Linked DNA regions of Homo sapiens. The protein of the gene in region 3 purifies or fractionates together with the protein of the main gene of each other region. This does not show direct contact. Each region holds a gene or a part of one and is shown on either strand. Other genes may lie near its edges.

Region 1 (3,719 bases), on a different chromosome or scaffold from region 3:
TCGTAGCTTGGGTCCTATGGCAGGAGTGCAATAGGACATGGATATGCATCACCTGTTCTATAAAACTGGTTGCTGGCTGGGTGTGGTGGCTCAACTCGTATAATCCCAACACTTTGGGAGGCCAAGGCAGGCAGATCTCTTGAGATCAGGAGTTGGAGACCAGCCTGGCCAACATAGTGAAACCCCGCTTCTACTAAAAATACAAAAATTAGCCAGGCATGGTGGCGTGTGCCTTTTATCCCAGCTACTCGGGAAGCTCAGGCAGGAGAATTTAACCCAGGAGGTGGAGGTTGCAGTGAGCTGAGATTGTGCCATTGCACTCCAGCCTGGGCAACGAGCAAAGCTCTGTCTCAAAAAAAGAAAAAAAAAATGGTTGCTGCGTGATGAGGCAGTTGGTCAAATTAGTTTTCAGAAGGTTAAGGGTTCTAAATATCTAGAGTAAAGAAACTGAATTAATTATCTGAGCGGCCTCATTGTGAATCACTGTACACTCAGGAACCAGACTGAGTTGAAATCCTGTCTTTGCCACCTATTGACAGCACGATCTTAAGTGGATTTTAGCCTCTGCCTGTTTCTCAGCTGAATGTGAGTTTAATAATAGTGCATGCCCCAAAGTTGTTGGTTAGGAATCAATACATGAAAAACATTTAAGAATGGTGCCGGGCACAGTGGTAACTGACATATGAGCACCTGCCTCTCTCTGCTCAGATACAGAAGGTGGTCATGGCACTAGGAGACTACATGGGCGCCTCCTGTCACGCCTGTATCGGGGGCACCAACGTGCGTGCTGAGGTGCAGAAACTGCAGATGGAAGCTCCCCACATCATCGTGGGTACCCCTGGCCGTGTGTTTGATATGCTTAACCGGAGATACCTGTGTGAGTAATTCGGTTCTCCAATCCCCTGGGTCACTTTGCTCTTGTGCACGCTTTCCAGTCTTTCAGCGTAAGCCAGAGTCATTCCCAAGGATGCTGGTTTCTCTCTGGGGGAAGAGCTGCTCTGTGATGGAGCCCATGCGTGTCATCTGAGCCTCTGGCTTCCCTGCCAGTGCAGCCCTGGCAGTGTCCTACTTCCCAGGGCTGTTGTCTGCCTGGCGGGAAGGTCCTGGGCAAAGGATCAGTCTTTGTACTCTGAGAGCAGACTACTTGGCTCCTCTCTGTTTTTTATCAGCGAAGTTGGATATATCTCTCCCACATTTCCCTAATCATATGCTATATATTGGCTTTTTTTTTCTTCTCTAGCCCCCAAATACATCAAGATGTTTGTACTGGATGAAGCTGACGAAATGTTAAGCCGTGGATTCAAGGACCAGATCTATGACATATTCCAAAAGCTCAACAGCAACACCCAGGTGAGGGCAGTCTTGCTTGAATAGCTAATGATTCTTGAAAAATAGTAAGTGCCAGGGGAACCATATACTGGATTCTTGAGCCTTTTTATGCATCTGCTTCAGTTTTAGGTGTGGCTAGGGAAGGGAGCAGGCCTCAGGAAGGAACCAGCACTCTAAGACTGGCCTTTTTTTCCACTAGGTAGTTTTGCTGTCAGCCACAATGCCTTCTGATGTGCTTGAGGTGACCAAGAAGTTCATGAGGGACCCCATTCGGATTCTTGTCAAGAAGGAAGAGTTGACCCTGGAGGGTATCCGCCAGTTCTACATCAACGTGGAACGAGAGGTGGGGCCCAGTGCAGGAGGCGGGCCTGGTAGTGAGTTGTTGGGTATAGCCCCTGACTGATTTTTGTCCCCCAACCTCCAGGAGTGGAAGCTGGACACACTATGTGACTTGTATGAAACCCTGACCATCACCCAGGCAGTCATCTTCATCAACACCCGGAGGAAGGTGGACTGGCTCACCGAGAAGATGCATGCTCGAGATTTCACTGTATCCGCCATGGTGTGTTTGCCCGCTGCCAGCCTGTTGTGGGTCTGCCCGTCAGAAGTGTCCTACTTGAAGCCAGGGTTCCTGGAACCCAGGTGCCTACCTGGTCTGCTGCATATTTGTTTTCTCTTCCAGCATGGAGATATGGACCAAAAGGAACGAGACGTGATTATGAGGGAGTTTCGTTCTGGCTCTAGCAGAGTTTTGATTACCACTGACCTGCTGGTGAGTAGAGGGAACTGATAGCAAAGGCAGAAGGGAGGATCCAAGGTGATTCCCTCTCCAAGGGGACATCAGTGCCTCTCAGGAAAGTAGCAGCTTGGAATAGAATCTGGCATGCCTAAGGCCTTTGGGGAACTGGGATGCTTATTTCCTCTGCCTTCCTTGGCTGCCCACATGGATGCCTAAGTGTCTTCCCTCCGGGATAGAGTGTCCTCCGTGCACATGCTGAAGAGTTGTCTTTCTTGACGTAGGCCAGAGGCATTGATGTGCAGCAGGTTTCTTTAGTCATCAACTATGACCTTCCCACCAACAGGGAAAACTATATCCACAGGTAAGCGTAGATCTGGAACACTCCCCTACCCCTTCACACCTGGCCCTCCCTGGGCTTAAAGCTCCTGATATTCCTCATCCCCTTCCTTGTTTTCCAGAATCGGTCGAGGTGGACGGTTTGGCCGTAAAGGTGTGGCTATTAACATGGTGACAGAAGAAGACAAGAGGACTCTTCGAGACATTGAGACCTTCTACAACACCTCCATTGAGGAAATGCCCCTCAATGTTGCTGACCTCATCTGAGGGGCTGTCCTGCCACCCAGCCCCAGCCAGGGCTCAATCTCTGGGGGCTGAGGAGCAGCAGGAGGGGGGAGGGAAGGGAGCCAAGGGATGGACATCTTGTCATTTTTTTTCTTTGAATAAATGTCACTTTTTGAGGCAAAAGAAGGAACCGTGAACATTTTAGACACCCTTTTCTTTGGGGTAGGCTCTTGCCCCAGGCGCCGGCTCTTCTCCCAAAAAAAAAAAAAAAACACTAATCCATTTCCCTAACCTAGTAACCTCCAGATCCCAGAGGCTCTCCTCACCTCAGCTGAGCTCCTTTGAAAGTGATTCAAGGGACTATGTCACTCAGCCTCATTTGCTGGACCAAATCTGGAGGGAGAACCCCTAAAACCCCTAAGTGAGGTTGCCCAGGGGGTTGTCCCCAGGTGGGGGGAAGCAGGGGAGAGAAAATGGTAGCCATTTTTACATTGTTTTGTATAGTATTTATTGATTCAGGAAACAAACACAAAATTCTGAATAAAATGACTTGGAAACTGCCTGTTTGGGCTTCTCATTTCTTACCTCCCCTTCCCTCTCCCACCTGCTACTGGGTGCATCTCTGCTCCCCCCTTCCCCAGCAGATGGTTACCTTTGGGCTGTTGCTTTCTTGTCACCATCTGAGTTCTCAGACGCTGGAAAGCCATGTTCTCGGCTCTGTGAATGACAATGCTGACTGGAGTGCTGCCCCTCTGTAAAGGGCTGGGTGTGGATGGTCACAAGCCCCTCACATGCCTCAGCCAAGAGGAAGTAGTACAGGGGTCAGCCCAGAGGTCCAGGGGAAAGGAGTGGAAACCGATTTCCCCACCAAGGGAGGGGCCTGTACCTCAGCTGTTCCCATAGCTACTTGCCACAACTGCCAAGCAAGTTTCGCTGAGTTTGACACATGGATCCCTGTGGATCAACTGCCCTAGGACTCCGTTTGCACCCATGTGACACTGTTGACTTTGCCCTGATGAAGCAGGGCCAACAGTCCCCTAACTTAATTACAAAAACTAATGACTAAGAGAGAGGTGGCTAGAGCTGAGGC
Region 2 (6,650 bases), on a different chromosome or scaffold from region 3:
CATTGATTCTAATTAAATGTTTTATGAACATGTAAAAATTTTGACCTTGAAGTTCATAACATTTTTTTTGCTTATAGTTTTCATACCGATCTAGAGTTCGTCCTTGCGTGGTTTATGGTGGTGCCGATATTGGTCAGCAGATTCGAGACTTGGAACGTGGATGCCATTTGTTAGTAGCCACTCCAGGACGTCTAGTGGATATGATGGAAAGAGGAAAGATTGGATTAGACTTTTGCAAGTATGTTTTATTTTGTTTTTGTTTTTTTGTTTTGTTTTGTTTTGTTCTTTTGTTTTTGGCAGAGTTGCGCTCTTGTTGCCCAGGCTGGAGTGCCATGGCGCGATCTCGGCTCACCACAACCTCTGCCTCCCGGGTTCAAGCGATTCTCCTGCCTCAGCCTCCCAGGTAGCTGGGATTACAGGCATGTGCCACCACGCTGGGCTAATTTTTGTATTTTTAGTAGAGGCGGGGTTTCTCCATGTTGGTCAGGCTGGTCTCGAACTCCTGACCTCAGGTGATCCGCCTGCCTTGGCCTCCCAAAGTGCTGGGATTACAGGTGTGAGCCATCGCACCCGGCCAAGTATGTTAATTTTTAAATGTATGGGATGCAGTATTAAAGTTACTGCCCATTAGTTTTGTGGTGATGTTAACATTGTCTAAATGTTAAGGCTGAGAAGTGATGTATTTCAGACATCTAACTTTCACAAAAAGCTTGTTCATGGTAATTTTAATGTTGAAAAATCAGTAACATCTTGGTTGAGACTTACAACAATGATCAGCTCGTGGGACAGTCAACTAGGATGGGCTAATTTGACTGTGTAATCTTGAATGACTTATGTAGTGGCAAGAATCCTGTGCTGTGTCTGTAAAATTATGCAGTGTGAGGCACCATCTTAATGAATATATAATTGTAATAACCTATACAATTGTATTTGTAATTATACTAACAGCCATACTAAAACCATGTTGATTTCTCCTCAAATTCTAAACTCAGGCTTGTTTTTTTTCATGACATGACAGATACTTGGTGTTAGATGAAGCTGATCGGATGTTGGATATGGGGTTTGAGCCTCAGATTCGTAGAATAGTCGAACAAGATACTATGCCTCCAAAGGGTGTCCGCCACACTATGATGTTTAGTGCTACTTTTCCTAAGGAAATACAGGTACTGTTTGATGTTGCAAATTTTATTTATTTAGAAATTTGTTTATCTCAGGTAATAATAAAAATTTTTTTTCTTTCAGATGCTGGCTCGTGATTTCTTAGATGAATATATCTTCTTGGCTGTAGGAAGAGTTGGCTCTACCTCTGAAAACATCACACAGAAAGTAGTTTGGGTGGAAGAATCAGACAAACGGTCATTTCTGCTTGACCTCCTAAATGCAACAGGTAACATTATGAATTTTTTATTTTATTAGACATGGGGGTTTCTCTTTGTTGCCCAGGCTGGAGTGCAGGGGTTATTCACAGGTGTGATCTCATTACTGATCAGCATGGGAGTATTTGACCTGCTCTGTTTCTGACCTGGGCCTGTTCACCCCTCCTTAGGCAACCTGGTGCTCCCTTGCTTCCGGGAGGTTACCATGTTGATGCCAAACTTAGTGTGGACACCTGATAGGCATAGTACACTACAGCCCAGAACTCCTAGACTTAGACAATCCTCCTGCCTCAGTCTCCAGAGTAGCTGGGACTACAGGCACTCACCACTGCACCCAGCTAAAATTATGAATAATTTAATTGCTCTGGTAATAACCCATTTGGGCTGGGTGCAGTGGTACAGTGCATGTAGTCCCAGCTACTTGGCAGGCTGAGGCTGTAGTATGCCATGATTGCACCTGCGAATGGCCAGTGCACTCTCAGCCTGGGCAATTTAGTGAGACCCCCATCTCTTAAATGTATTTGGATTACCTTTATTACTTTTCCTCCTCAATTCAAAACATGCTGTGTTGAAAGCCCGTTTTTAAGAAGATATATATGTATTTTAATTGACACATTAAAATTGTGCATACATAAGTGCAAAGAGAACTAAGCCATGTTAGTGACAAAAACCTATAATTTTTCAACGACAGGCAAGGATTCACTGACCTTAGTGTTTGTGGAGACCAAAAAGGGTGCAGATTCTCTGGAGGATTTCTTATACCATGAAGGATACGCATGTACCAGCATCCATGGAGACCGTTCTCAGAGGGATAGAGAAGAGGCCCTTCACCAGTTCCGCTCAGGAAAAAGCCCAATTTTAGTGGCTACAGCAGTATGTATAAACATCTTTCTTTTATTCAAATTGAGCATGTTCAAGTATTTGTTTTCTTTTAAGTGGGCCATATCTCATAAAAGTTATTTTCCAGGTAGCAGCAAGAGGACTGGACATTTCAAATGTGAAACATGTTATCAATTTTGACTTGCCAAGTGATATTGAAGAATATGTACATCGTATTGGTCGTACGGGACGTGTAGGAAACCTTGGTAAGTATTTGATTACTTGATGGTTTCATTGTTTTTTGCTGTGATGTGTGCAGGAAAGAACTTGCTAGGATCTAAAATACATTTTTAACAATGAAAGTGACAAAGATTTTGCTCAAAGCACTTGTTTAAATATTACGTGGTAATATTTTAAATATTTCTACGTAGGAAAGTAAGAATAGTAGCAAGTTACTTTATGGAAGACCTTTGTTTATATACTTTTTTGGGAACTCTTTTAGGCCTGGCAACCTCATTCTTTAACGAGAGGAACATAAATATTACTAAGGATTTGTTGGATCTTCTTGTTGAAGCTAAACAAGAAGTGCCGTCTTGGTTAGAAAACATGGCTTATGAACACCACTACAAGGGTAGCAGTCGTGGACGTTCTAAGAGGTGAGGTATAAATAGTATATAATGAGGGGAATGGGTGTTCACTTACAGTTCATAGTGTTTCCTCTGCATGCATAACGTCCAAGGTTAACTGTACAGTATTTAAAAAGCTTAATCATCTTAGGCTTCCTAGATTCTTTGGTAAGGGGTTGTATTAGAATGGGTGACACTCTGTTGGGGAAAATATGGCTGGATGGGGAATTGTTTGAATGGAAAAATTAGAAATTGGTCATTAGGAAAGAGTTAGGTTACTTTAGTGGAATTTCATCTTCATGTGAACCAACATAATTTTTTTCTTATAGTAGCAGATTTAGTGGAGGGTTTGGTGCCAGAGACTACCGACAAAGTAGCGGTGCCAGCAGTTCCAGCTTCAGCAGCAGCCGCGCAAGCAGCAGCCGCAGTGGCGGAGGTGGCCACGGTAGCAGCAGAGGATTTGGTGGAGGTAGTGTTAATCTGTAACTTCATAGCTTTGGGAAGGGTTTTTTTCCTTTTAGTCATCTTTTTCAAAGCCTAATTAAACAATTTAAGTTCAGCACTATAGAAACTTGATGGCAAATTACGTAAGGGAAGGATTGTATTTAATGATGGATAACTTCATTAATTTCTCTCTCTTTTTAAATCTCTCATTAGGTGGCTATGGAGGCTTTTACAACAGTGATGGATATGGAGGAAATTATAACTCCCAGGGGGTTGACTGGTGGGGTAACTGAGCCTGCTTTGCAGTAGGTCACCCTGCCAAACAAGCTAATATGGAAACCACATGTAACTTAGCCAGACTATACCTTGTGTAGCTTCAAGAACTCGCAGTACATTACCAGCTGTGATTCTCCACTGAAATTTTTTTTTTAAGGGAGCTCAAGGTCACAAGAAGAAATGAAAGGAACAATCAGCAGCCCTGTTCAGAAGGTGGTTTGAAGACTTCATTGCTGTAGTTTGGATTAACTCCCCTCCCGCCTACCCCCATCCCAAACTGCATTTATAATTTTGTGACTGAGGATCATTTGTTTGTTAATGTACTGTGCCTTTAACTTTAGACAACTTTTTATTTTGATGTCCTGTTGGCTCAGTAATGCTCAAGATATCAATTGTTTTGACAAAATAAATTTACTGAACTTGGGCTAAAATCAAACCTTGGCACACAGGTGTGATACAACTTAACAGGAATCATCGATTCATCCATAAATAATATAAGGAAAAACTTATGCGGTAGCCTGCATTAGGGCTTTTTGATACTTGCAGATTGGGGGAAAACAACAAATGTCTTGAAGCATATTAATGGAATTAGTTTCTAATGTGGCAAACTGTATTAAGTTAAAGTTCTGATTTGCTCACTCTATCCTGGATAGGTATTTAGAACCTGATAGTCTTTAAGCCATTCCAGTCATGATGAGGTGATGTATGAATACATGCATACATTCAAAGCACTGTTTTCAAAGTTAATGCAAGTAAATACAGCAATTCCTCTTTCAACGTTTAGGCAGATCATTAATTATGAGCTAGCCAAATGTGGGCATACTATTACAGGGAAAGTTTAAAGGTCTGATAACTTGAAATAGGTTTTTAGGAGAATTCATCTACTTAGACTTTTTAAATGCCTGCCATAAATGAAATTGAAATGGTAGAATGGCTGACCACAGCAATGACCAGCCCTCATTAGGGCCCTGGATGATTTTTGGTCTAATAACGCATGCTAGTGTTGATGTTTTTTGGTCAAGAGGGTATGAACAGGAAGAATTAAATGCAGCAGGCTTTATTTTAAATGCCGATTCACATTACTCTGTTCAAGCTGCGTTGAGATGTTAAACTGGCTTACTATAGACTTCGTAAAAATGGCTCCAGAAGAGTAACAAACTGAAATCTTTGAGATCACACAGGTTGGAAATATGTACATAACTGCACAAGGTGTCAATTCTGCTCTACAGTGCAGTTTTAGTCAGTTTTAGTTGCATAGGTTTCCATTGTATTTATAGTCTGTTTATGCTAAATCTGGCCAAAGATGAGCATTGTCCACCACTAAAATGCCTCTGCCACTTTGAATTCTGTGCTAATTTTGTGGCCAGAATGCGGTGATCAAAACGCTCCATCTTTTTACAGTGGCATAGGAAGACGGCAAAAATTTCCTAAAGTGCAATAGATTTTCAAGTGTATTGTGCCTTGTTCTAAAACTTTTATTAAGTAGGTGCACTTGACAGTATTGAGGTCATTTGTTATGGTGCTATTTCAATTAGTCTAGGTTTAGGCCCTTGTACATTTTGCCCATAACTTTTTACAAAGTACTTCTTTTATTGCACATTCAGAGAATTTTATATATATGTCTTGTGTGCGTGTCCTTAAACTTCCAATCTTACTTTGTCTCTTGGAGATTGTTGAACGCAGCTTGTCTAGGAAGGGGATGGGACTAGATTCTAAAATTTATTTGGGACCATGGGAATGATAGTTGGGAAGAAAACTATTTGCACACGACAGATTTCTAGATACTTTTTGCTGCTAGTTTTATGTAATATTTATTGAACATTTTGACAAATATTTATTTTTGTAAGCCTAAAAGTGATTCTTTGAAAGTTTAAAGAAACTTGACCAAAAGACAGTACAAAAACACTGGCACTTGAATGTTGAATGTCACCGTATGCGTGAAATTATATATTTCGGGGTAGTGTGAGCTTTTAATGTTTAAGTCATATTAAACTCTTAAGTCAAATTAAGCAGACCCGGCGTTGGCAGTGTAGCCATAACTTTCTGATGTTAGTAAAAACAAAATTGGCGACTTGAAATTAAATCATGCCAAGGTTTTGATACACTTGTCTTAAGATATTAATGAAACACTTCAAAACACTGATGTGAAGTGTCCAGATTCTCAGATGTTTGTTGTGTGGATTTTGTTTAGTTGTGTGTTTTTTTTTTTTTTTCAGTGAATGTCTGGCACATTGCAATCCTCAAACATGTGGTTATCTTTGTTGTATTGGCATAATCAGTGACTTGTACATTCAGCAATAGCATTTGAGCAAGTTTTATCAGCAAGCAATATTTTCAGTTAATAAGGTTTCAAAAATCATGTAAGGATTTAAACTTGCTGAATGTAAAGATTGAACCTCAAGTCACTGTAGCTTTAGTAATTGCTTATTGTATTAGTTTAGATGCTAGCACTGCATGTGCTGTGCATATTCTGATTTTATTAAAATAAAAAGTTGAACTGCACAGTCTCCTTTGTTGTTGTCAATTGTGGTTTATTTTCAGAGGTGTAAATAAAGTGCTCTTGCCTGAAAAATTGTAAAATGTTATTTTTTGCTTGTCATCCAGTGCTATTTTTTGAGATGCCTCTTGGATACAGAATGACTCATACCATAAGTATTTGCAATGAAAGATGAAGATAGTATTAGTTTGAAATACAGTGAAACAGGATTTTTGTAATAGACGGAAATCTAAAAGGCCCTTACTGATAATACAGCATGTATTAGAAATTGGCTTATACTTTGAACAATTTGACATGGGTGGGAGTCTCTTTGTTCTTTGAAGTATCTATTATGAAGGATGGTTGAACAGTGGAAGAATGAGCAGGATAAAAGTCAAGTGTGTCAGTAGTCCAACAAGTGATGGTAAGTATATACTTAGGGAAGGAATCAAGACTATTTGGGCCAGGTGTGATGATTACATAGTCCTATAGTGCTAGTTTACTTGGAAGCTGAGGGGCAGGAAGATTGCTTGAGCCCACGAGTTCAAGTCCAGCCTGGGCAACGTATAGCAAGACCTTATCTCTGAAAACAGGTAATAAGACATCTATGCTTACTGTACACACTGCTGCAAT
Region 3 (7,037 bases):
TGGAACAAAAACCAAGATATGTTATATAAATTTTAATGAAAATTATACGTAGTAAACACACATGCTTTAAATGCACATATACTATTTGCCAATAATCACTGAATTATTATTATGAGCATACATTAGCTCTTTTCAAAGTAGTACTTTTTTCCAAACAGCACTTTCAAAGTAGGAAATAATACATTCTCATTTGTGAATGAATAAAAAATGCTACATGCCAAAGGAGAGTGCTCTAGTGGTTATATACTTCACTGCTAAGAAAAAGCAATTTTACAGAAATAAAAAACATATGAAAAAGGCCAGGCGCAGTGGCTCATGCCTGTAATGATAGCACTTTGGGAGGCTGAGGTGGACGGATCACTTGAGACCAAAAGTTAAAAGACCAGCCTGGCCAACGTGGCAAAACCTGGTCTCTACTAAAAATATAAAAATTACCCAAGCATGGTGGCATGCGCCTGTATTCCCAGCTACTCGGGAGGCTGAGACATAACAATCTCCTGAACCCGGGAGGCGGAGGTTGCAGTGAGCCTAGATCATGCCACTGTACTATATATAGCCTGGACAACAGAGTGAGACTCTATCTCTAAATAAATAAATAAATAAATAGCTGTGAAAAAACCCAAAAAAACAAGACGTTGCGCACCAATTGAGCCGTTCAAAATTATAAAAGTGTTCACGAAAACAATACAAGGAAAACAGGATCTACAAACTGAAGTATTTCTAAAGCTACAAATAAAATAACTTCTGGTTTTACTCATCTTAATACTGTAAAATAAGTAGGCAAAGAGCAAAACTTACCCTATATGTGTAACAGCTTCTCTGTTTTCACATTCAGTAGTCCATATTGCTATCTTATCACCTTTAGCTCTAACATTAACAACAGCGCCACATACATCATCACTGTAGTCATCAAAAGATTCTCCAATAAGGCACAGAAGCTTAAAAAAAAATCCCAAATTACATTTAATAGATTATAAACAAGCTCATTACACTGCAAATGTCTCTTCTGTATTTGCATAGAAACTAAAGGCAGTTTTTAAATCAAGAGTTAATTTTTTAAATGTGTAAATTTTATTTGCATATATTGATCTGTCCTGACTTTTAAATACTCATTCATTTATTTACTATCAAATCAGCCTTTTTCAGCAAATTTGGCAGTTAATGTCATGGCAGACATAAAAGCTGATTTTATTAATATTCATTTGCTCTGCTGCTGCTTATATTTATGAGCAAACAAATATTAATAGAATAATAAAAATAGCTATTCATGGTTAATCTCCTCTTGTTCTTATTTTTTATGAATATTTGTTAATGGTCTGGTTTTTTGTTGTTGTTGTTGTTTGAGACAGGGTCTTGCTCTGTCACCCTGGCTGGAGTGCAGTGGGATCATCACAGCTCACTGCAGCCTCAACCTCCTGGGCTCAAATGATCCTTCCACCTCAGCCTCCTGAGTAGGTGGGCATACATACAGGGACATGTCACCATACCCAGTTAATTTTTGTATTTTTTGTAGAGACAGGGTTTTGCCATGTTGCCCAAACTGGTCTTGAACTCCTGAGTTTAAGTGAAATGCCTGCCTCAGCCTCCTGAAGTGTTGAGATCACAGGTGTGAGCCCAGCCCTAACAGATTTCTTAATTGTGGTAAAATACAAATAACATAAAATTTACCATTTTAACCACCTTTAAGTGTACAGTTCAGTGGTGTTAAGTACATTCAACATTGTTGTACAACCATCCCTACTACCATCCATCTCCAGAAGATTTTTTTTAACTGCAAAATGGAAATGTCCTGACTTTTTAATGTGGAATTCAAAAATGGTATTTGCTCATGATCTTCCCCCTCAAAAACAGAATTTTCTTCTTAAAAAGTCATTCATTCATTAGCTGGCTGTGCTGGCATGCACCTGTAGTCCCAGCTACTTGAGAGGCTAAGGCAGGATGATTGCTTGAACCCAGGAGGCTACAGTGAGCTATGATGGCCCCACTGCACTCTAGCCTGGGCGACAGAACAAGACCCTGTCTCTAAAAAAAAGCAAAATAGTCACTTATTCAAACATTTAAAGTGATTAACTTAACAAGTGCTAACTATAAACCAGGCACGGTTTCAAGTGCTAGGGATACAAAAGAGACTACAAACCCCGCTCCTATAAGCTTGGGGTTTGGAACCTCTGTCTACAGAAAATGCTTATTATCTCATATTTAATTTGTCTTGTAAAGCCAGAAGTTCCAGTTAATATCACAACATGTAGGTCAAATGGTAGTACACAACAATTTTATTATTTGCTTCACTAATCTAAAAAGTTTAGTGGGACAGGCACAGTGACTCACACCTGTAATTCCAGCACTTTGGGAGGCTGAAGTGGGAGGATCACTTGAGGCCAGAAGTTTGAGACCAACCTGGGCAACATAGCAAGATCCCATCTCTGGAAAAAAATTAGAAAATTAGCTGGGCATGGTGGCATGCACCTGTAGTCCCAGCTACTTAAGAGGCTGAAGTGGGAGGATCACTTGAACCCAGAGGGTGAGGCTGAAATGAGCCATATAAATAAATATCCGCACTCCAGCCTGGGCAACAGAGCAAGACCCTCGCTCTAAAAATATAAGTATTTAAAAGTTTAGTATACATATAGCAATGCTGTAAGAGGGTTGCAAAAACTTCAATCATACAAAATGTAAGGTTCTATAATTTTGAGGTTAATGAAATGACCACAGTGAGCTTACTGTGGTGAGAGTCAACTGCCAATCACTTAAAATATCTGACTTATAATGTGGTAGGATGTTTCACTGTACTATAAACAGGAGTCATATGACAGAACAAAAATAATTACTGACCCTGATTTTCTAGTGTTGGGCATCCTTCTCTTAAATTAAGTAACAAATGTAAAACATAACATATCTTAAGTATCAGTATTCCAAAACTACCTCTAAAACTGCTTTATACTTTTAAAACCTTACTGTCTCTAGCCAAAAGCGATCGAGGTCACTTCGTCTCTGCTGTTTGTTCAATGTAATTAGCCATCGTCCTCCCCGTTTGTTTTTCTCATCTTCCCACATAGGCTCAATACCATCCTACAGGGTTAGAAGACAACAGTATTACACAACATTGTTACCTTGACTTTGAGAGATAATCATTAGAAACAGTTAAGCAACAACACTGTCAACTTCTTACTTTATTGCCCATAAAACTGCCATTGATGTAGTTTTTAAACAGCACATAAGACTTAAAGCCAGAGGCATGACATTGCAGAATTAGAGTCCTGGCTTTGTCACTTATTAGCTATCAAATCTTGGGTTTCACTTAATTTGAAGGTTCTTAAACTTTCTGAGAAGCAAACATATTTTAGAAGCTCTGTACATTTCTACAGCTAGAAAATACATGCAAAAACTATGCAATTTCAGTTAATGAATGTCCCGTCCCTCTACCAACTGACAAAGCCCAATAATAAGTATTCCAAGGACCCATGCTCCTAAGGTTAAGAATGCTTGATAAACTCAGTCTGCTCAAATATATAAAGGAAGGAGTAGACTGGATAATCAAAGCTCTCATCAAAATCAATCTCAGTATGTGCCCACAGAGTAACTCTCTCTCAATTTTTATAAACAAATAGAATAAGATATATTGATACTAAAGCATACTACAGCCAATTAAATTATCAGCCTATTCATCACACTATCAAATATTCCTAAGTTTATGGTAAGATTTCTTAATGAATACCAAATGGCCCAGTCCTATAATAAATATATAAAATCACCAATTAAGCATACCTTAAAAAGTGAGTAGTCACAGCCAGGCATTAAATTACTAGACAACTGGATATGGTTGTACAGACTAGGTAAAAGAAAATAACAATTAAAAACACAGAATATGTAATATAGAGTTTAGGTGCTTACATATATATACATTTAGAACATATGATGAAAATAAACAGATAAAAGTTCATGTTTACTTGTTTCTAAGGAGTCAATTTCTAAAATGGACAAAACAGATCTTAAAAGCAGTTAAATAATCAACTTCAGATGACAGGTATAATTTTCAAAAAAACTTCTAGTGACTGCTCTGACAAAAATATATTTTATGTTAGTTAACTCAGTGCATACATATGTATATATATAAGAAACTGAGAAGAGAGGTATAAGGTGGCTTTAAGTAGATGAAATAATTTCTGAAGTTAATACACAGTTTTTTTCACAAACATAAAAAAACAAAAACAAAAACAAAAACAAAAACCAGAAACGATGAACTTCCTGACCATCAGGATTGCATGACTGAAACAGTCATTATCCTTGAAGGTATCCAAGAGTAGAATAGATCAACGGTTCCCAAACACCACAAACTGTCACTGGTTAGTCAACATAATAATCATTTTAAAACTGATTTTAGAAAAATAAATAAATAAATATAGTTACAAGCCCTACATCTTGGGATTATAATCACCTAAATATAAGATGGAACCCTGCAGTCTGTATTTCTAAACTATTTCCCAAGTATCAAAATAACAGAATAACATTTGCGATGACTTAGTTGCTTGCCTGAAGGTAGGAGGCTTAGATCATTTGATCTCCTGTAGTCTTTTACAGCAAAATTGATTTAAAAATTGGCAACTCTTAAGAATCTTTTGCTTGTCTCCAATATTAGATGGCAGAAATAATGATCTTAGCTGTGTCTACAGACCATGGATGATTCTACTATCCTTAGTCTGGTTCTCCTGGTGCTATGTTAACCCCATCTAGGAATATTTCAGGTAAAGATTTAAGGGCCGGGTGCAGTGGCTCACGCCTGTAATCCCAGCACTTTGGGAGGCCGAGGCAGGTGGATCATGAGGTCAGGAGTTCGAGACCAGCCTGACCAACATGATGAAACCCTGTCTCTACTAAAAATACAAAAATTAGCCGGGCGTGGTGGCATGCGCCTGTAATCCCAGCTACTAGGGAGGCTGAGGCAGGAAAATCGCTTGAACCCAGGAGGCGGAGGTTGCAGTGAGCCGAGATCACCCCATTGCACTTCAGCCTGGTGACAGAGCTAGACTCCATCTCAAAAAAAAAAAAAAGATTTAAGAAAGAAGTTGGCATCTTTAAATCAAATTCCATAGTATAACACACAAATATAGTTTAGGTGAGACAACCTAAGACCACATAAGGTTTGCTGAGTCACTACCTAATGGTAACTCCCAACTACATCATCAATGACAGCCTCCACTAGGCAACAAAAAAAGACGGGATACTAAGTGACTATAAAATTAGCGCTACTAATGTCATAAAATGAATGGATATTGTGGGAATGACCTTCAATAAAATACTTTTTCCCTTTTGCTGCCTCCTTTCTCTTCTGTGGTGCTCAAAGGTCTCTCAAGTAAGTCCATCATGAGAATTTATAATGGCACATCTAAACAGAATCCTAAGACTATGCAGTCTGGATAAATACAAAAGGACTCAATGGTTATCTGCAATAAATTTGCTAGAAAAAAACAGAAATTAGGAAGTGGCCCACACATTTATAGAAAACTGAAAAATCCTTCATATCTCTAAGTTATGGTATAAAAACCTACTATGTAATGACATTGACTACATGTAACTGAAGCATGGAGAACTGTTCTAATTAGAAGGTAGAATTATGTAAACTGGTAAAAGCCAAACAAACTAGATAAATGCAAATCTGATTGGGGAAGGTGGCTCAAGGCTTCCTTTTTCTCTGTAGGAGAATGAAAAGCTTTTTTTTGGGGGGTGCAGAAGACTGGAGTTATTTAAGAGTCCTGAATAAACAAAACTAGAGAAGAAAAACTACTTGATGTTTTGATGATGGGCAAAGAATAATAATCCTAGTTTAACTAGAAAACTAGACCTATAAATTATTAGGCCTTAAATGTAGTTATTATTAAGTGTCAATGCTTTTAATAAAAAATAAATACTCTCAAAGTTTACTCTCAAATGAATGTTCTCAAATACTCTCAAAGTTTATGGTTTTAATCGTATGCTTTGCTTTTTTCAGCAACACAAATGAATACAAAATATCTATTAGAAGCCAAGCACTGGAAATATACAGAAAAATATTGTTTCTGCTGTTGAAGATGTACATACATATGTATAAATTTTATACCACAATCTATTTCTTTGTATGAGCAGAATATCTTGAGGGGGTTACATTAAAACATAAGAGTAGCATCACTAATTCAGCATGTATATGATCCTAAAAAAAGATGTACAAGTTAGAATATTTAGATAACTGCTAGGTAATTTAAAGTGCTTATTAAAGAGTTTTGCCTTTCATGGTCTCAAATAGTACCTCCCTAGTCATTCTCCAAGTAAATTAGACACACTGGATTAACTTTGTTTTTAAGAGAATCAATTATCAAAACTTCTTGAAATAGACTTTACAATTTTTATTTATTTTATAGAGAAACAGGGACTCATGTTGACCAGGTTGGTCTTGAACTCCTGGCTGCAAGTGATCTTCCTGCCTCAGCATCCCAAAGTATTAGTATTACAGGCATGAGTCACTGAGCCCAGCCTTAAATTTTGTTTTAAGGTCATGCAAAAGTTGATGATCCCAATTCTTAACTTTCTGCTATACAGAAACAAAATTTCAAAAATATTTCAACTATTCTTCTTGAGGTTGATCAAAGTATAATGAAATGAATAAAGTATCATGATAGATACTGGCATTGCCTTGACAAACCGTGAATTCTGAACACTTCAGCCTTTGATATCTTAAAATCTCTGGTACAGGAAATTCCAGATATTGCACTGAAAACAGTTTGCAGAAATGAGGACCCAACAACGCACTGCAATACCCAGTTATGAGGCAAATGTATCTTGGCAACCAGGAGTGGAACAAGTTCCAACTAGCTGTCAAAAGTTCTAAGGGCAATAATGGATTCTTGAGCTAAGGATATCTCAGGACAAGAAACAATAATTGGGGCTGGGGGATGACAAGATTGAAGCTCTGTAAAACTAATAAAGCATAATCACCAATTCAAACTTTTGTGAGGAGATAAAAAAATAGATGAACATTCATTAACTGTTTAACTCACACTTCATTT
Region 4 (7,037 bases), on a different chromosome or scaffold from region 3:
GCTGTTCTTTCATGCACTGAATATTTATCAGATCCCTGCCATATAAATTAGTCAACACTTGTAAAGAACAGTGCCTGGCACATAGTGAATACTTTGCCCTGATGATGATGATGATGTTCAGGCATTAAGGTAGGCAGGCTCAGTGATGGTACAATGATGAGCAAGGTGGATATGGGTCTTGCTTTTATTGGGCTTATGTTTTAGCTGGGAGAATAGTGTGGGTTGGATGACAGTCTTATAACCTGGTATTTTGGCTTTCCTCCTAGATGCTTTCTTCACATGTCGAAAAAATGTCCTTCTGGCGAACAGCTCATCCCCCCAGGTAGAGGGCGACTTTGCCATGGCCCCTCGGGGCCCTGAGCAGGAGGAATGTGAGGGCCTGCTGCAGCAGTGGCGAGAAGAAGGGTTGAGCCAGGTGCTCTCAACTGCAAGTGAGGGGCCCCTTATAGATAAAGGACTAGCCCAGAGCAGCCTGGCACTTCTGATGGATAATCCTGGAGAAGAGAATGCTGCTTCAGAGGACAGGTGGTCCAGCAGGCAGCTGAGTGACCTTCGGGCTGCAGAGAACCTGGATGAGCCTTTCCCTGAGATGCTAGGAGAGGAGCCACTGCTGGAGGTGGAGGGGGTGGAGGGCTCCATGTGGGCAGCTATCCCCATGCAGTCGGAGCCCCAGTATGCAGACTGTGCTGCCCTCCCAGTGGGTGCCCTGGCCACAGAGCAGTGGGAAGAGGACCCAGCGGTGTTGGCCTGGAGCATAGCACCTGAGCCTGTGCCCCAGGAAGAGGCTTCCATCTGGCCCTTTGAGGGCCTGGGGCAGTTGCAGCCTCCCGCAGTGGAAATACCATATCATGGTGAGTCTGACAACTGGTTGAGTGAGCCAAGGGAACAGGGTGTCTCAGGTGTGGGCAGAGCCATTGCTAAAGAGAAGATTCTATGGTAGGGAGCTCTGCCACTGCATTCTATTTTTCTAAGAATCTTGGCATGTCAGATCTAGAGGGTCCTTACAGATCATCTCATCCAGCCCCATGGTTTTAAAGGTGAAATAATCAGAGTGCAGAGAGGTAGTAGAACATGACTAAAGTCATAAAGCCAGGTAGGGGAAGAACTGAAAGCATACTCTAGTTCTGATTCTCCACAATGTCATTTCTCTGGTGGTAACCCTAGGGCTTTCTGGAGGTAGGGATAGAGAGGTCTCAGGGCCTCTAGTCTCTGTCTCAGTCACAATTACCTCAGTTTTATTTGTGTTGTATATTGAGAGTCCGTTAAAATTTGAAGAATGGCGTCAATAGATTTGAAATCCACTATGCTGCCACATGCCATAGGGGAGATGGGGACACACCATAGTTTCTAGTCCCACAGACTCTTCCAGGTTTAGGGGTCAGAAAACACCCAGGGCTGCAATTACTCTAAAAATGTCTTTAACCTCAGGTGACTGTTAAGCACACTCATCTGAGTGATTCTCCGGAGATTCATGGATTTATCAAAAATGAGAGTGTGTCAGCTTCCATATATGGAGCATCTATTAGATGCTAGGTGCTGGGGATGTAGTGGTGAGCAGGCCAAGATTGTCTCTGGCCTTGTGGAGCTAACCATGTCATCTGAAGAATGTCCATAGAAATCAATTCCCCACAGAGAGGGATGGGTGACAGGGAAGATGGAAAAAGGAACTTCAGGCATAATATTACTGAGTCAGGAGTGGAGATGGCAGCACCTCTGCATTACTCATACTTGCCATTGAGTGCTTCTCCCAATCCTTTGCAGAAATTTTGTGGCGAGAATGGGAGGATTTCTCCACCCAGCCAGATGCTCAGGGCCTGAAGGCAGGAGATGGCCCTCAGTTCCAGTTCACTCTGATGTCTTATAACATCCTGGCTCAGGACCTGATGCAGCAGAGCTCAGAGCTCTATCTACATTGCCATCCAGACATCCTCAATTGGAACTATCGCTTCGTGAACCTCATGCAGGAATTCCAGCACTGGGACCCTGATGTGAGTGAAGAGGGGGAATTGCCATCTTGCATTGTTGCTGGACCTGGGCTGTTGCCCAGTGCTCTTAGAAGATGAGTTCAACCCATAGTTGTTCAAATGATTGGAGTCCTATCTAGGGCTGGAGCTTGCCTGCCTGGTGTCAGTGAGTTGTTGGCAGATGCTGAGAAGAATCTCCCTAGATGTGCACTTCCCAGCACCTTTATGCAGGAAGGGAGGCTTGAGGGATTCAAGGAGCAGGAAAATCCAGTGCACATCTCTAATCTCTTCAGCTTAAGTCTGGGCCTGTTCTTGCTGTTGGTGACTCTGGGAAGTTTCAGTGTGACCCAGCAGCTTCCCACCTGGCCTCAGGACCTGCTCCTAGAGGGTGGGGGTCACATTCCAGCACTCTGGAGTGATTGGGTTTCTTGTCAATTTCCCAGATCCTGTGTCTCCAGGAAGTCCAGGAAGATCATTACTGGGAGCAGCTGGAACCCTCTCTGCGAATGATGGGTAATGCAGCTCCCTGGGATGCTTGCCAGCTTTTCTTTCCACAGACTTGTCTACTCTCTCCTGAAGACCCCATCCTTTCCTTTTGTCTTAGTAAACCCTCAGTTTCACCTGTGAGCTAGCTCCTTCCATGTGTGCCTGAGAAAGTAGAATTCTGCAGTTTTATAGCAATTCTGACATACATTGCTATTTGATCCTTGAAGTAACCAATGTGGTGAGACTGTTATTCCCATTTTACAGATGAGGAAACTGAAGTTCTGAAAACTCATGTGACTTCCTCAGAATCACAAAGCTACAAAGCTAGTAGATGTGGAGCTAGGAATCCAGCTTGTCTGACTCTAGATTCTGTGCTCTTTTCTATCATGTTACATTGCTTCATACCCTTCCCTCCTTGCCCTTCCAGCCCCTCAGTCAGCTGGTTACGATGTAAGGGGGAACCTGCTGAACCAAGGAAGTGGCAAAGGCTCCTTTACTGAGTAGCAGGAACAATGCCTCAGGGGCATACACTGGGACTGCTGGTGCTGGTTGGAAGGGATTCAGGCTTTAAGGACTCTGACCCATCTCTTTGGTGGGATTTTCCTTGCAGGCTTTACCTGTTTCTACAAGAGGAGGACTGGGTGTAAAACCGATGGCTGTGCTGTCTGCTACAAGCCTACCAGATTCCGCCTGCTCTGTGCTAGCCCTGTGGAGTACTTCCGGCCTGGCTTGGAGCTACTTAATCGGGATAATGTGGGCTTAGTGTTGCTACTGCAACCACTCGTCCCAGAAGGCCTGGGACAAGTCTCGGTGGCCCCGCTGTGTGTGGCAAATACCCATATCCTTTACAACCCACGCCGGGGCGATGTCAAGCTGGCCCAGATGGCCATTCTCCTGGCGGAAGTGGACAAGGTGGCCAGACTGTCAGATGGCAGCCACTGCCCCATCATCTTGTGCGGGGACCTAAATTCTGTCCCTGATTCACCTCTCTACAACTTCATCAGGGATGGAGAGCTCCAGTACCATGGGATGCCAGCCTGGAAGGTGAAATGGGAGAGGCCACGGTGTGGGTGGGAACATGGTCTAAGAGAGATTCAGGCGTTAGCATCAGTGCTTCTTCTGTGGCAGGGACCTCAGTACACCTGCTCTGGCCTGCTCCTCCTTTTTCTTGTTATGTTGAATAGCTTGTACCCAAGCCTGGAAGTTAAGAATTCTTGAGTACTTCGGCATATTGGAATTTTTTTCAGTTTTTATCATTAATATTTTTAATTCACAAGTAATACGTAAGTACATACTTGAAGGAACTTAAACATTATACAGTAAGACACAGGCCTGTTTTATTACCCACATTCCCTATTCTATTCTCTTAGAGTAACATAATGACCGTTCTAAGTTTGGTGGTAGTCTTTTAGCTTGTTTTCTTTGCATTTACAGTGATATCTATGTTCCTATGATATTGTAATCAGTGTTTACATTTGTTAAGCACTTAAGTGTGTGCCATGTGCTATTTTAAGCACTTTATACTCATTAACTAATTAGTTTTCACAGTTTCCATCATGGCTTCCATTTTATAAATGAGGAAACTAAAGCTCAGAAAAGTGAAGTAATTTGCCCTAGGTTATGCGGGTAGTTAGTGGTGGAGCCAGGATTTGTAACCAGGTGGTCTGGCTGCAGAGCTCTTACCCTCAAATACTGTGCTGTCATTGCTTATAACAGCCAATATGTAATCTACCATGTGTGTTTTATAAACATGATACACTACTGTATGTTTCATTTGTAGCTTGTTTTTTTTCACTCAGCAATTTGCATATGGATCTCATTCCTTCTAACTGTTGAGTGTTGATGACAAACACCTCGTAGTTTTATCAGCTTGTGCTGATTTCTTTATGTCACTTAATCTCCTTGTTCCTCTATTTTGCCCCTACTGTTTCAATTTATTGACTAACTTTTGGCAAGGCACAATGGTGGAAGGACACAAAACGATTGTATTACTGTTGCGCACATGGGATTTTATGTAAATGAGCCAGATGTGTGCAGAGAAAGGCATGATCTTGCCCTAAAGGAGCTGTAATCAAGGAACTCAGGGAACGAGGAAAAGAATTTACTGACTGCCTGCCACATGACAGGCACTGTTAGGCATAGTGAATGAGAGCACTTGCTTTGAAGCCAGACAGTCCTGAGTTCAGATCCGTGCTCTGCCACCTTGAGCAAATTACTTAACTTTTTTGAACCCCATTTGCCTCATCTATACGATGGGGGATATAATGGGACCTGCCTCAGAGGTGTTTTTTTGGGTGGATTAAATAAAATAATGCGTGTAAAGTGTTTTCCAGTATCTGGCTCAAAGTCAGTAACCGGTAGTGATTATTAAGATTCTTAATTGTACATGGTATTATTATCCCATTTTATTTATTTATTTATTTATTTATTTATTTATTTATTTATTTTTTGAGACAGAGTCTCGCTCTGTTGCCCAGGCTGGAGTGCAATGGCACGATCTCGGCTCACTGCAACCTCTGCCTCCTGGGTTCATGTGATTCTCCTGCCTCAGCCTCCCAAGTAGCTGGGATTACAGGTGTGTGCCACCATGCTCGGCTGATTTTTGTATGTTTAGTAGAGACGGGGTTTCGCCATGTTGGCCAGGCTGGTCTCGAACTCCTGAACTCAGGTGATCCACCTACCTCAGCCTCCCAAAGTGCTAGGATTACAGGCGTGAGCCACTGCGCCTGGCCTATCCCATTTTATAGTAGGAGATATTGAACCCAAGAGAGTTAACTAACTTGCCAAAAGTCACACAGCTATTAAGTGGCCATTGAATTGCAGATCTGTTTTACTTCTGATGACATATTGAAAATTTATGCCCTTACAGGGCAAGGGGATTCTGTCTATTGCTGCTCTATCCCCAGCACCTAGCTAGTGTCTTTTGGCTTTCAAATATTTGTTGTTGTTAAATGGCATAAAGGGACTTTTGCTACACACGTTGGAGATGTGCAGATGACTGATGTTGCCGAATGTTTCCCCTACTACGTTTTGTCCGTTCCCAGGCTGCTCATTGGCTTTGACCGAGGATGGTGACGTAGATACGGTAAAGTGCTTTGGTGCTTTCCCATTTGGTTTGACCCTGTGGTTACCCAGTAATAGGTTCAGGATATTAGACCTTGATCCAGAAGATCCAAAGATGAGGATAAACCTTTAACCATTGCAACTTAAAGCCCCTGAGAGTTGATATTCCCTGTGGAGGAGAATTGTATTGATTTTTCAGAGGTAAAATTTAGGGAACCACATGTTCATACTATTCGATTCCCCTTGATTCAGTCTCTTACCCCTCCTCCTGTTTCATGGACATTTCAGTGTTGCCAGTGAAAAAGTAATGGTTTTAATTTGGTCCTTATTTTTAACCTGCCCCTGAGACTTATATGCTTGTTTATACCATGTACGTAGTGTGTGATTGTATGTGTTTGTATTTGTCCACATGTCCCAAAACATGGGCTGTTACTTCCTTTTTCTATCTTGGTTTCCTTATTCCCACCCTTCTTTTTCCACCCAGGTATCTGGACAGGAAGACTTCTCCCATCAGCTTTACCAGAGGAAGCTGCAGGCCCCACTGTGGCCCAGCTCCCTGGGCATCACTGATTGCTGTCAGTATGTCACCTCCTGTCACCCCAAGAGATCAGGTGAGCACATGTCACATTCTTGGTTGGCTGTGTCTTCATGCCCATTTTGGGAGAAAGCTGGTGTCTCAACGACAAGAAAAAGTGTAATCCCTCATTTCTCTTAGCAGATTCCTCTGTTTTCTCACTATCCTCCCAATGGCTGTCCAATGAAATGGACAACTTTAAATCATAGCCTTTGGAAAATCTCCTTGTCTTCTGAATGCTTCCTCTGTGTACCTATGCTGGAAGTTGCTTGGTACTAAGGAGGTCTCAGCATGTGGCTTCATCGTCTTTCTTTCACTATATGTCTTTTCCTGGTTTACAGAGAGACGCAAGTATGGCCGAGACTTCCTGCTACGTTTCCGCTTCTGCAGCATCGCTTGTCAGCGACCAGTAGGACTGGTCCTTATGGAAGGAGTGACAGATACTAAGCCAGGTAATGGGAACTAATCCCAGTTTCTTGGTCTTCTTTCTTCCTCATTCCTGATATTGGTCAGTTATGTGGTTTCCTGCTCTTTTCTAAGTATAATTCTTAGAGATTAGCTTCTGGTAATACGTATATTTAGAAGGAAGGTTAGTTGAGTTCAGTGGCCATTGCATGGATGTGCAGTGTGATAAGAGTGCCGGACCAGGAATCAAGACACCTGGGTTGTAACTAGCTTTGAGAGCTTGGGTAAGCCATTTAACCTTTTTAAGCTTAAGTTGCTAATGACTAGCATGTGTACAGCATATATAGGGGAGAAGTTACACATGATGGGGCTTTGAAAATCATAAGGTGACAGTGGTTCTGATTTTAATAAAAGTTGTTCCTACTGAGAAATTTCAGATTGAATATAGCAGAGTATACTTGACATTCTCCCCTTCTTGTCTCTGAAACCACTTCAAAGCAACAAGGAGAATGGAAAAAAGAAATGTAAACTCCATTGTAGACAAA

Evidence for each region.
Region 1: the proteins of EIF4E (region 3) and EIF4A1 purify together in Homo sapiens (affinity purification with mass spectrometry; 9 studies listed by BioGRID and IntAct, with this or other methods). This does not show direct contact.
Region 2: the proteins of EIF4E (region 3) and DDX3X purify together in Homo sapiens (co-immunoprecipitation; 3 studies listed by BioGRID and IntAct, with this or other methods). This does not show direct contact.
Region 4: the proteins of EIF4E (region 3) and ANGEL1 purify together in Homo sapiens (affinity purification with mass spectrometry; 5 studies listed by BioGRID and IntAct, with this or other methods). This does not show direct contact.

What each region holds. Positions count from the first base shown.
Region 1 is NC_000017.11:7,575,816-7,579,534, forward strand, and holds the end of EIF4A1 (eukaryotic initiation factor 4A-I), read left to right. Parts: intron 1-708; coding exon 709-877; intron 878-995; exon of another isoform or gene 996-1,143; intron 1,144-1,240; coding exon 1,241-1,350; intron 1,351-1,528; coding exon 1,529-1,672; intron 1,673-1,753; coding exon 1,754-1,891; intron 1,892-2,011; coding exon 2,012-2,101; intron 2,102-2,139; exon of another isoform or gene 2,140-2,276; intron 2,277-2,349; coding exon 2,350-2,429; intron 2,430-2,526; coding exon 2,527-2,671; 3' UTR 2,672-3,191; downstream 3,192-3,719. UniProt on the Homo sapiens protein: ATP-dependent RNA helicase which is a subunit of the eIF4F complex involved in cap recognition and is required for mRNA binding to ribosome.
Region 2 is NC_000023.11:41,344,162-41,350,811, forward strand, and holds the end of DDX3X (ATP-dependent RNA helicase DDX3X), read left to right. Parts: intron 1-77; coding exon 78-238; intron 239-1,018; coding exon 1,019-1,163; intron 1,164-1,242; coding exon 1,243-1,387; intron 1,388-2,067; coding exon 2,068-2,249; intron 2,250-2,343; coding exon 2,344-2,461; intron 2,462-2,697; coding exon 2,698-2,851; intron 2,852-3,150; coding exon 3,151-3,290; intron 3,291-3,478; coding exon 3,479-3,558; 3' UTR 3,559-6,113; downstream 6,114-6,650. UniProt on the Homo sapiens protein: Multifunctional ATP-dependent RNA helicase. The ATPase activity can be stimulated by various ribo-and deoxynucleic acids indicative for a relaxed substrate specificity.
Region 3 is NC_000004.12:98,884,124-98,891,160, forward strand, and holds part of EIF4E (eukaryotic translation initiation factor 4E), read right to left. Parts: intron 3,830-7,037; coding exon 3,766-3,829; intron 3,070-3,765; coding exon 2,956-3,069; intron 2,424-2,955; coding exon of another isoform or gene 2,331-2,423; intron 939-2,330; coding exon 799-938; intron 1-798. UniProt on the Homo sapiens protein: Acts in the cytoplasm to initiate and regulate protein synthesis and is required in the nucleus for export of a subset of mRNAs from the nucleus to the cytoplasm which promotes processes such as RNA capping, processing and splicing.
Region 4 is NC_000014.9:76,802,873-76,809,909, reverse strand, and holds part of ANGEL1 (protein angel homolog 1), read left to right. Parts: intron 1-266; coding exon 267-851; intron 852-1,761; coding exon 1,762-1,988; intron 1,989-2,407; coding exon 2,408-2,477; intron 2,478-3,060; coding exon 3,061-3,494; intron 3,495-4,907; coding exon of another isoform or gene 4,908-5,025; intron 5,026-5,494; coding exon of another isoform or gene 5,495-5,535; intron 5,536-5,997; coding exon 5,998-6,124; intron 6,125-6,428; coding exon 6,429-6,539; intron 6,540-7,037.